3 linked regions of the Homo sapiens genome follow. The protein of the gene in region 1 purifies or fractionates together with the protein of each later gene. This does not show direct contact. Each region holds a gene or a part of one and is shown on either strand. Other genes may lie near its edges.

Region 1 (3,108 bases):
CGGGTGCCCCCGACTCCTCTCCCTGCCCCTCTACACCCTGTGGTCTCGGCCCCTCCCTGGGGCCACCTCCAGCTTCTCTCCCCACTCTCAGTCTCAGCCCCTTCCCTAGACCACCTCCGGCTTCCCTCCCCGCTCTCTGTCTCCGCCTTGGATTTCAGCCTCTGTCATTTCCACCTGGCTGTGGGTCTCTAGGGAAGTTACTACCTCACCCTGTGTCATTTTCCCTTAAGGACTGCCCAAAGGTCCACCCAATTCTTTTTTTTTAATCTTTATTTATTTTATTTATGTATTTATTTTGAGATAGGATCTCACTCTGTTGTCCAGGCTGGAGTGCAGTGGCACGATCTCGGCTCACTGCAACCTCTGCCTCCCGGGTTCAAGAGATTCTCCTTCCTGCCTCAGCCTCCCGAGTAGCTGGGACTACAGGTGCATGCTGCCACACCCGGCCAATTTTTGTATTTTTAGTAGACATGGGGTTTCACCATGTTGCCCAGGCTGGTCTCGAACTCCTGAGCTCAGGCAATCCACCCGCCTTGACCTCCCAAACTGCTAGGGTTACAGGTGTGAGCCACCGCACCCGGCCACACCCAGCTAATTTTTGTATTTTTAGTAGAGACGGGGTTTCACTGTGTTGGTCAGGCTAGTCTTGAACTCCTGACCTCAGGTGATCCTCCCACCTCAGCCTCCCGAGTAGCTGAGACTACAGGCGCCCGCCACCACGCCCGGCTAATTTTTGTATTTTTAGTAGATATGGGGTTTCACCGTGTTGGCCAGGCTGGTCTTGAACTTCTGACCTCAGGTGATCCTCCCACCTCAGCCTCCCGAGTAGCTGGGATTACAGGCATGTGCCACCACGCCCAGCTAATTTTGTATTTTTGGGAGAGACAGGGTTTCACCGTGTTGGCCAGGCTGGACTGGAACTCCTGACCTCAGGTGATCCTCCCACCTTGGCCTCCCAAAGTGCTGGGATTACAGGCGTGAGCCAGTGCACCCAGTGAAGGTCCCCTCTTCTCTCCACCATGACCTGCTCCACCCCTCCTTCCTCTCCAGGTGGGCATGACGGCTCCCGGGACCCGGCGGCACATCTATGATACCAAGCTGGGAACCGACAAGTGTGACAACTCCTCCATGTCCCTGCAGATGGGCTACACGCAGGGCGCCAACCAGAGCGGCCAGGTCTTCGGCCTGGGCCGGCAGATATATGACCCCAAGTACTGCCCGCAAGGCACAGTGGCCGATGGGGCTCCCTCGGGCACCGGCGACTGCCCGGACCCGGGGGAGGTCCCTGAATATCCCCCTTACTACCAGGAGGAGGCCGGCTACTGAGGCTCCCAGCACGCTCTCTCCCCACATCGTCTGCCCATCTGGGTTTTTGGGTTTTTCTGTGTTTTCATCTTTTTTTTTTTTTTCTTAACCCGTTCAGTGCTGCCAGTCAACCAAGGGTCTGTGAGTGTCAGCGTGGGATCAGGCAGCAGAGCTTTTTTCCCCTTTGCCTTGATCCTTCGCAAGGCTGAGCCACTGGGCTGTGGGGGAAGGGGTCAAGGCCATATCCCAATACGTGTAGGGCGAGGGTCCCTGCTGGCACATTCAGGCTGTGCTGGGAAGAAGAGACCTGGGCTTGGAAGGAACCGGTCCCCGACGGTTTCTGCTTGCCTCGCCTCTTCCCCCTTTTGTCAGCTGAGCAGTTTGTGGTTTCTATGCCCGCAAGTTTCAGGAAGTATTCACAAAAGAAAAATACATTTTTTCCCCCAGGGGTGGGGCAAGGACAGTGGAGAGAGTGCTAGGAAATGAGTCCCCTGGGAAAGGGGACCGGGCCGTGATGTTAAATATCTCCGGCTCCCAAGTGACTGGATTTGCCTAGGACCTTCAGACCAACAGACTTCAGACCCTCAGACCTGCCCCGGGGCCAGGTGGAGAAAGTGAGGGCCGTACAAGGAAGTGAAATTCTGAGTTGTTGGGGCTAAGCCTGACCCCCTCTCCATGCTCCCCGCCCCAACCCACTCTGGCCTCAGTAGATTTTTTTTTCAGTTGTGGTTGTTGCCCAGGCTGGAGTGCAGTGGCGCCATCTTGGCTCACTGCACCTCCACCTTCCGGGCTCAAGCGATTCTCCAGCCTCAGCCTCCTGAGTAGCTAGGACTGCAGGTGCTCCACCACGCCCGGCTAATTTTTGTATTTTTAGTAGAGATGGGGTTTCCCCATGTTGGCCAGGCTGGTCTCGAACTCCTGGCCTCAGGTGTGATCCGCCCGCCTCCGCCTCCCCAAGCGCTGAGATTACAGGTGTGAGCCACCGTGCCCAGCCCCTCAGTAGGTTTTAAGGAGCCCCCAGCCCTCCTCCCTTCTGGGCCCGACCAGCTTATACTGCTCCATCTTCCCCGGCCACATGCCCCGCCAAGTACTGCACAGGGACCCCCCACCCAGGGGACCTGCTCCGTGAGATAATGTGAAATACGACTGTGGACCAAACGCAATAAAACCTCTGTTTGTACGAAGAGAAGGTGGCCAAGAGAGTTGGCGTCGATGAGGGCGTGCTTTGCTTTGATGCTTTTGTGGGGAGAGAGGAGGTCTTGGGGGATGGGGGGATCAAGGGGAAAATGTCCACCTCACCATTGGGAGGAGGAGCAAAAGCTGAAGCCACAGGTGAGTCTGGGTGGAATGAATGATTTGAAGGGCCGGGACTTGGGGTAGAGGGAGAGGCTGGGCTTCCTGGCCATTTGGAGAAGAGGCAGTTCCCTCAAATGCCCCCCATGCGCTTTGGCTGCACTCTACCTTACAGCGCAAGTCTCGTGGCCTCAGCCTGGATGTCTCCCCGTTGGCGAACTCCTATTTATCCTCAAAGCCCCAACGGCAATGCCACCTCCTGCCGCGGGAGCCGTCCCCACGCCTCTCACTCTCCCCAGCGCCTTCAAAGCTGTGGACCCACACGCTCCCATTTCAGCTTCACCTCCAGCCTGAAGAGTTTATTTCAACTCTTCTTCCAGAGTGGGAAACGGGTTTTCCTCAAAATCAGGGTAGCCACTATAATCGGAGACTCTAGAATGTTGGCCCCCTCCCCCTCCTGCCATCCTCTGCAGAAGCCGAGGAGCGTTCGTGGAATGAATGAATGAACGA
Region 2 (3,750 bases), on another chromosome or scaffold:
CCGTCTCTACTGAAAATACAAAAAATTAGCCAGGCATGGTGGCACACACCTGTATTCCCAGCTACTCTGGAGGCTGAGGCAGGAGAATTGCTCGAATGGTCCGGTAGGCAGAGGTTGCAGTGAGCTCAGATGGCGCCACTGCACTCCAGCCTGGGTGACAGAGCGAGACTCTGTCTCAAAAAAAAAAAAGAAAATTTGGAGAAAAGAGAACACTACAAAGAAAGGTAAATCCTGTCTCTGTTTCTGAAACAAAGTAAAATGACTGTTACCATGGTGTCTCCTTTCCAGGTTTTTTTCTAAGTATTTTTATTTAGTTTATAATAGTAAAAATTTTTTTATTTTAAAGGGATGTCAGTTTGATATTTGGTCTGTTAATTAGAACAAAACTCTGATTAACTACAGCTGAACTAATGAGACCCAAATACCTGCAGTATTTGGAGAAAGACACAGATACCTTCAACTAAGCAAGGATTCCTTTTTTGTTTTTTGAGACAGAGTCTCACTCTGTCGCCCAGGCTGGAGTGCAGTGGTGCCATCTCAGCTCAGCACAACCTCTGCCTCCTGGGTTCAAGTGATTCTAATGCCTCAGCCTCCTGAGTAGCTGGGATTACAGGTGTGTGCTACCACACCTGGCTGATTTTTGTATTTTTAGTAGAAATGGGGTTTCACCATGTTGACCAGGCTGGTCTCGAACTCTCAACCTCAGGTGATCTGCCCGCCTTAGCCCCCCAAAGTGCTAGAATTCCAGGTGCACAAGGATTCTTTTAATTTAAAAAAACCTGTCAGTGTTTGCGCTGGGATCAGTATTCCTTTATACCTGGTTCCTAAGTATTTATGTTACCAGTGCTTTCAGAGAAATGTCCCTCAGAAATGTTGGGCAGAGATAGCAGTGTCCTTTTAATGCAGCAGGTACTTTGATTTGATTGTGTTCTTCCTCACAAAGGCAGAGAAGTGGATGAATGTTTTTTTTTAAAAAAAGATATTTGGGCCGGGCCTGGTGGCTCATTCCTGTAATCCCAGCACTTAGGGAGGCCAAGGTGGGTGAATCACGAGGTCAGGAGTTTGAGACCAGTCTGTCCAAGGGAGTTTGAGACCAGTCTGGCCAACATGGTGAAACTCCATCTCTACTGAAAATACAAAAATTAGCCAGGCACGGTGGCACACACCTGTAGTCCCAGCTACTCGGGAGGTTGAGGCAGGAGAATTGCTTGAACCTGGGAGGCGGAGGTTGCAGTGAGCTGAGATCATGCCATTGCACTCCAGCCTGGGTGACAGAGCGAGACTCTGTCTCAAAAAAAAGAAAAAAAAGATTTTCAGCAGTAAGAGCCACCTTGGAAAGTTTCTGTGCTATTTACTTTCTCTAGCAACTCCCACTTCTAAGGTAGAATTTTAGATCCACTTACAGCTCTGTATCAGGATCCTCTGAAACATCTACCCCAAAGCTAGCCTAACCATTGAAACTCTTTGGACTTACACTGTAGAATCTTTGAGACATGTGAAAAAACTTTTCTAGAACCAAATGTGATTGGTCTAATATTTTAAAATTCTTTTTAGGCAAAGGGGCTGATTTGAGTAAGCCTCCATGTCGAAAAGCAAAGGAAATCCGGAAAGAAAGGAAAAGGTTAAAACTAATGCAGCAGAACCCAGCTGGAGAACTTGAGGGTTTCCAGGCTCAAGGTCACCCACCATCTTTGTTTCCACCAAAGGCTAAATCCAACCAGCCAAAATCACTCGAAGATTTAATTTTTGAGTCTTTACCAGAGAATGCATCACACAAGTTAGAGGTACTTTGGAGGACTTTTGTTGTTTGTTTTATTATGATTTTTTTTTGTTTGGGCATATCGTTTATTTTTATTTGAAGTTCTAATTAGTTGATGTTTGCTAGTTAAATAATGAGAATTTAAAAGAAATTAAAGAGAACTGGGAAGAAGTAACATTTGTATTTACTAAGTTAACTGCTGTTTGAGGGAAACTCCTTTTTTTTTAAAAGACTTTTTGAGAATACATAGTTGGCCACCAAACTTGTGAAAACAGTGTCAATTTTAGCATGCTACCTTGATTGAAATTTAATAGTTAAAATGAAAGAAATACTCTTTAAAATTGTGTTTTTAGCAGTTTTGGTTTAGATAGTGAAAGACAATAGATTACACAAGGCAAATCACTATTTCATCCATTATAATATTCTGATCTTGGTAAAGACAGCAAATGGTGTCATATACATAAGCCAGCAGTTAGGAATTATCTAAATAGGGCTAAATTGTACTGCTGAAATCCTCTCTCATTAGTGCCAAAACCACTTTGGGCATAATATGAATACTTTTAGAGCCAAATTCCTCCATTTTTCCAAATTTATTTTCGTTTCTAGATCAGATCAAGATTTCTCAGTATTAGTTTCTCATATATAAAATTCAAAAACAAGGGCTGGATGTGGTGGCTCACACCTGTAATCCTAGCACTTTGGTAGGCCGAGGCAGGTGGATCTCTTGAGGTCTGGTGTTTGAGATCAGCTTGGCCAACACAGTGAAACCCCGTCTCTACTAAAATATAAAAATTGGCCAGGCGTGGTGGCGTGCACCTGTAATCCCAACTCCTAGAGAGGCTGAGACACCAGAATTGCTTGAACCCAGGAGGTGGAGGTTGTAGCGAGCTGAGATCACACCACTGCACTCCAGCCTGCGTGACAGAGCAAAAGACTGTCTCAAAAAAATTCAAAAACATTAGCCATAATGATTTTTATCTTATTCTCATATGTGATTAGTAACTGGTCAGCCTTTGAATTTTGTAGCTTACTATCATCTAAAAATATCACTTATCACTGAAGTCCTGATAATAAAAATTAACTTTCATGCATTCTAAGCCTTAATTCAGTATATGTATTATCAGACGTAGAATTTAGCTTTTTTTTTTGAGACGGAGTTTCACTCTTGTTGCCTAGGCTGGAGTGCAATGGCGCGATCTCGGCTCACTGCAACCTCTGCCTCCTGGGTTCAAGCGATTCTCCTGTCTCAGCCTTCTGAGTAGCTGGGATTACAAGTGCCCACCACTACGCCCGGCTAATTTCTGATATTTTTAATAGAGACAGGGTTTCACCATGTCAGCCAGGCTGGTCACGAACTCCTGACCTCAGGTGATCACCCGCCTCGGCCTCCCAAAGTGCTGGGATTAGAGGTGTGAGCTACCTTGCCTGGCCAGATTTTAGCTTTTATAACTCCTTGGCTACTCTGATTTGGATACAGATTTTTTTGTCCTTCCAAAATTGTAAACAGAGTTGAATACACTACTTAAAATATTTTACAAGGTGTCTTTTATCTTTGATCATAAATAGTAATGTATTCAGGAGGCCAAGCACGCTTAACATAACAGTTCTCCAGTGGTTACTTGTACTTTTTGAATGTAATGATACTCAGGATGTATAGAGATCTTTTACCACTGGGTGTCGCTCTTTCTTCATAGAATTACGTCTCACGGCACACATGTCCAGTTTCCAGCTGTTTTCATTGCATTGCATTTGACTGTTTTACTGTTCTGTTTTGCTAATACATTTTAAGTGGCTAGTAAATAATGTTAAAGTAAATGTTAGCCATTACTGCGTGCAATTACTGTTTTAAACTTATCCTTATTTTACAAGGTTACTTGACCAAGATGGTGACATTGTAAGATTTGAACAAAGGAAATGTGACTTCAGAGTCATGGTTGTTAACTATGCTATGAAGTAGGAAAACTTTATGAGGTCTTTTTAACTCAAACAGT
Region 3 (3,750 bases), on another chromosome or scaffold:
TCTAGAATGGCATTAAGCAAGTCACTGAACCGCTCAGAGCCTCTGTTTCCTTATCACTAAAAGTTAGGACAATTCTTGCAATGAAATGAGATACTACTACCAAGTACTTCAGTGCTGTGCCCAGCACAGAACGAATACACTCAGTATGTTTTTCTTTTGTTTCTTCTGTCTCTCCAGCACCCAAAGCAGAAACAGTATGGGCAGAGAGACGCCTACTGAATCAGGTGTTTATCAGTATTATGAAATACAGTATATAAAACCCAGCATTTGGAGTCCAGAACAAATTCAAATTCTGGCTCAGTCACTAAGTAGCTATGTGGTCTTGGGCAACTGGCTTACATTTTGGTAATTCTCTCAATATGCAAAAATATTCTCTCGGCCAGGTGCGGTGGCTCACGCCTGTAATCCCAGCACTTTGGGAGGCAGAGGCGGGCGGATCACTTGAAGTCAGGAGTTTGAGACCAGCCTGGCCAACATGGCGAAACCCTGTCTCTACTAAAAATACAAAAATTAGCCAAGCATGGTCATGCATGCCTGTAGTCCCATCTATTTGGGAGGCTGAGGCAGGAGAATCACTTGAACCCAGGAGGTGGAGGTTGCAGTGAGCCGAGATCGAACCACTGCACTCCAGCTTGGGTGACAGAGCCAGACTCTGTCTCAAAAAAAAAAAAAAAAAAAAAAGAAAAGGAAAAAAAACTCCTGGCAGACATGAGAGCAAAATCGAGTACGAAATGGGCAGCTGGGACCTCATATCTACTGAATAATTGTCTGTTTGGAGGTTGAGACATGACTGGGGAGGCCTGGCCTGCCCCTGTGTTAGGTGATGGGGCTGGCCCACCCAGGGGTGTGGCAGCAGGGCTGGCCCCTGTGTGACTTGTGATAACCCCACCCTACCAAGGAGGAAGACTGGATAAAATGGGCCCCTGAGATGGCTGAAGGCAGCTAAAGGGGCCTAAGAGACTATGGGGAGAAGGGCAGCCAGTTCCTAGGCAGCCCTGCCCCACTGTTTCTGATAAGCAGGAGGCAGTTGTTCCCTCAGCCTCCTGAAAGCAATGAGGAGTTGAGGCCACGGGAATGCAGCTTTGGATTCCAGAAGCCAAGGACCTGTTACAAAGGTGGTTTTCTGGGAAGCAAATTAGAGGGATTAGACCTGGCTTCGACATCTGACTTGACTCCAACCTACCAAAGGATCTCCCAGTTCACCTGGGAGTTAACACACCAGGGTTCTAGTCCTTTTGCTCGCTGTGTGGCTTTGGGTAAGTCCTTGCCCCTCTCTGGACCTTGAGGTCCCATTCATACAAAAAGCAGTTGGACTCAGGCCTGCCAGCCCCCATTTTTGTGGCTCTTCCCCGCCCCTCCCCATCCTTTGGCTATGGGATAGTCTCCCAGGCACCTCCAAAAGGAAGTGTCTAAAACAGAGCTCTCCACCTCCTCTCCAAGCCCAGCTCCCCACTGCCCTCTTCCTGCCCTGTCCCTGTCTCCGCTGCCCTTTAGATCAGGCAGGCAGGCAGGCCTAGAGCATCCGCCCTGAGACACTGCCTGTTGGCTGCCTTAAGACGCCCCTTCCTTCTCTGCCCGCAGCCTCCCCAGCCTCTGCATTCCTCTGCTTCCTGTCTGCTCTGCTCAGCCTGCAGGATTGATCTTCCCAAAGCCAGGTGTCAACCAGGCCACTAACCCTACCCACTGCTCAGAAATCTTCCCACAGCCTCAGCCTGGCCCCCTCTTATCCATCCCCTCCATACACACTTGCCTCAGCTCCTCAAAACAGTCCACAGCCATCCTCCTTCCCCACCTTTGCCCCTTTCTTCCCTTCCTAAGGAAATATTGGCCCCCTTCTCTCCACCAGGCTGAACCCACTCATCCTGCAAAACCAAGTTCAACGCCCTGTCATTTTCTTTTTTTTTTTTTTTTTTGAGATGGAGTCTCACACTGTCGCCCAGGCTAGAGTGCAATGGGTGCACTCTCGGCTCACTGCAACCTCTGCCTCCTAGGTTCAATCGATTCTTCTGCCTCAGCCTCCAGAGGAACTCTGACTACAGGTGCACACCACCACACCCAGCTAATTTTTGTATTTTTATTTTTATTTCTATTTATTTATTTATTGTGAGATGGAGTTTCTCTCTTGTTGCCCATGCTGGAGTGCAATGGCACGATCTCGGCTCATTGCAACCTCCGCCTCCCAAGTTCAAAGGATTCTCCTATCTCAGCTTCTGAAGTAGCTGGGATTACAGGCATGTGCCACCACACCCGGCTAATTTTTTTTTATTTTTAGTAGAGATGGGGTTTCACCATGTTGGTCAGGCTGGTCTCAAACTCCTGACCTCAAGTGATCCACCCACCTCGGCCTCCCAAAGTGCTGGGATTACAGGCGTGAGCCACCGTGCCTGGCCTAATTTTTGTATTTTTAGTAGAGACGGAGTTTCACCACATTGGCCAGCCTGGTCTCAAACTCCAGACCTCAAGTGATCCACCCGCCTCAGCCTCCCAAAGTGCTGGGGTTACAGGTGTGAGCCACTACGCCTGGCGCCTGTCTTCTTCTAATATGCCTCTTCTGACCTCCTCACTCCCATTGGAGCCATGGCTCACTTCTGGTCAGGCTCCATGCACTCAATCAGCCCTGCCTGCCAGGACTGTAGTGCCCACTTGATGAGAAATCACCTGTGAAAATGCCAGGCATGGTCTGGCACACAGTAGGTGCTCAAGAAACAAATGTTAATGCCCCAGCTTCCTTCTGTCTTGTGTCCACTAATTTGGCATTTGGAGCATATTTTTGTACTTCACGTAATTAAATATTTACTGTGTGCCAAGGTCAGTGTGTGACAGAGCACTGTAGGGGAGGCAAAAATGAACCAACTCTGGACCTTGCCCTGCAGAAGCTCTGTCTACTGGCATGAGGTAAGACAGGTCCACAGATAACTTACATAAGAGAGACTGCAATCTGGACAAGACAGCCTCAGTGGGAGAGGGAAGGAGAACCCTGTAGATTTGGGTGCGGGGAGGCTGTGGGGAGAGCACAGCCTTTCAGGTAAAGGGACAAGGTTAGGAAAGCAAGAAGGTGTAGCTTGTGCTCGTGGAGCCCAGGAAACTCCTTGGGCTAGAAAAGATTTGGTGGCACTCTATACAGTGTATGTGTCTGTCTGTCTATCTAACATGAATGGTACTATTTTCTCCTATTGGTGTGCATTGTACCTAACAAAAAATCCATGTCCCAAGTACTTTTCTCTTTTCTTTCTTTCTTTTTTTTTTTGGAATGAAGTCTTGCTCTGTCGCCCAGGCTGGAGTGAAGTGGCGCTATCTCGGCTTACTGCAACCTCCTCCTCCTGGATTCAAGCAGTTCTCCTGCCTCAGCCTCCCCAGTAGCTGGGATTACAGGCACGCACCACCACGCCCAGCTAATTTTTTTTGTATTTTTAGTAGAGGTGGGGTTTAACTGTGTTGGCCAGGCTGGTCTCGAACTCCTGACCTCAAGTGATCTGCCCATCTCAGCCTCCCAAAGTGCTGAGATTATAGGTGTGAGCCGCCATGCCCGGCCAACAGTACTTTTCTCTAGAGGTAGAATTGCAGGGGATTTTTCTCTTTTTGCTTATCTGCACTTTTCTAAAAGTTCTGCCATGAACACGGGCATTTTTTGTGGAATAAACAAAGTTTAAATGTTGGCTAGATCAGTGCTTCTTTATGCATAAGGAAGGATTAGTTCTTTTTTTTCTATTTCCAATTTATTGATTCTTTGATAAAATGCAATGCAATAAA

What was found.
Region 2: the proteins of CNN2 (region 1) and ATE1 purify together in Homo sapiens (affinity purification with mass spectrometry; 3 studies listed by BioGRID and IntAct, with this or other methods). This does not show direct contact.
Region 3: the proteins of CNN2 (region 1) and ALAD purify together in Homo sapiens (affinity purification with mass spectrometry; 2 studies listed by BioGRID and IntAct, with this or other methods). This does not show direct contact.

Annotation. Positions count from the first base shown.
Region 1 is NC_000019.10:1,036,575-1,039,682, forward strand, and holds the end of CNN2 (calponin-2), read left to right. Parts: intron 1-1,050; coding exon 1,051-1,326; 3' UTR 1,327-2,491; downstream 2,492-3,108. UniProt on the Homo sapiens protein: Thin filament-associated protein that is implicated in the regulation and modulation of smooth muscle contraction. It is capable of binding to actin, calmodulin and tropomyosin. The interaction of calponin with actin inhibits the actomyosin Mg-ATPase activity.
Region 2 is NC_000010.11:121,900,425-121,904,174, reverse strand, and holds part of ATE1 (arginyl-tRNA--protein transferase 1), read left to right. Parts: intron 1-1,554; coding exon 1,555-1,784; intron 1,785-3,750. UniProt on the Homo sapiens protein: Involved in the post-translational conjugation of arginine to the N-terminal aspartate or glutamate of a protein. This arginylation is required for degradation of the protein via the ubiquitin pathway. Does not arginylate cysteine residues.
Region 3 is NC_000009.12:113,394,552-113,398,301, reverse strand, and holds part of ALAD (delta-aminolevulinic acid dehydratase), read left to right. Parts: exon of another isoform or gene 1-224; intron 225-1,027; exon of another isoform or gene 1,028-1,256; intron 1,257-1,846; exon of another isoform or gene 1,847-2,844; coding exon of another isoform or gene 2,845-2,895; intron 2,896-3,750.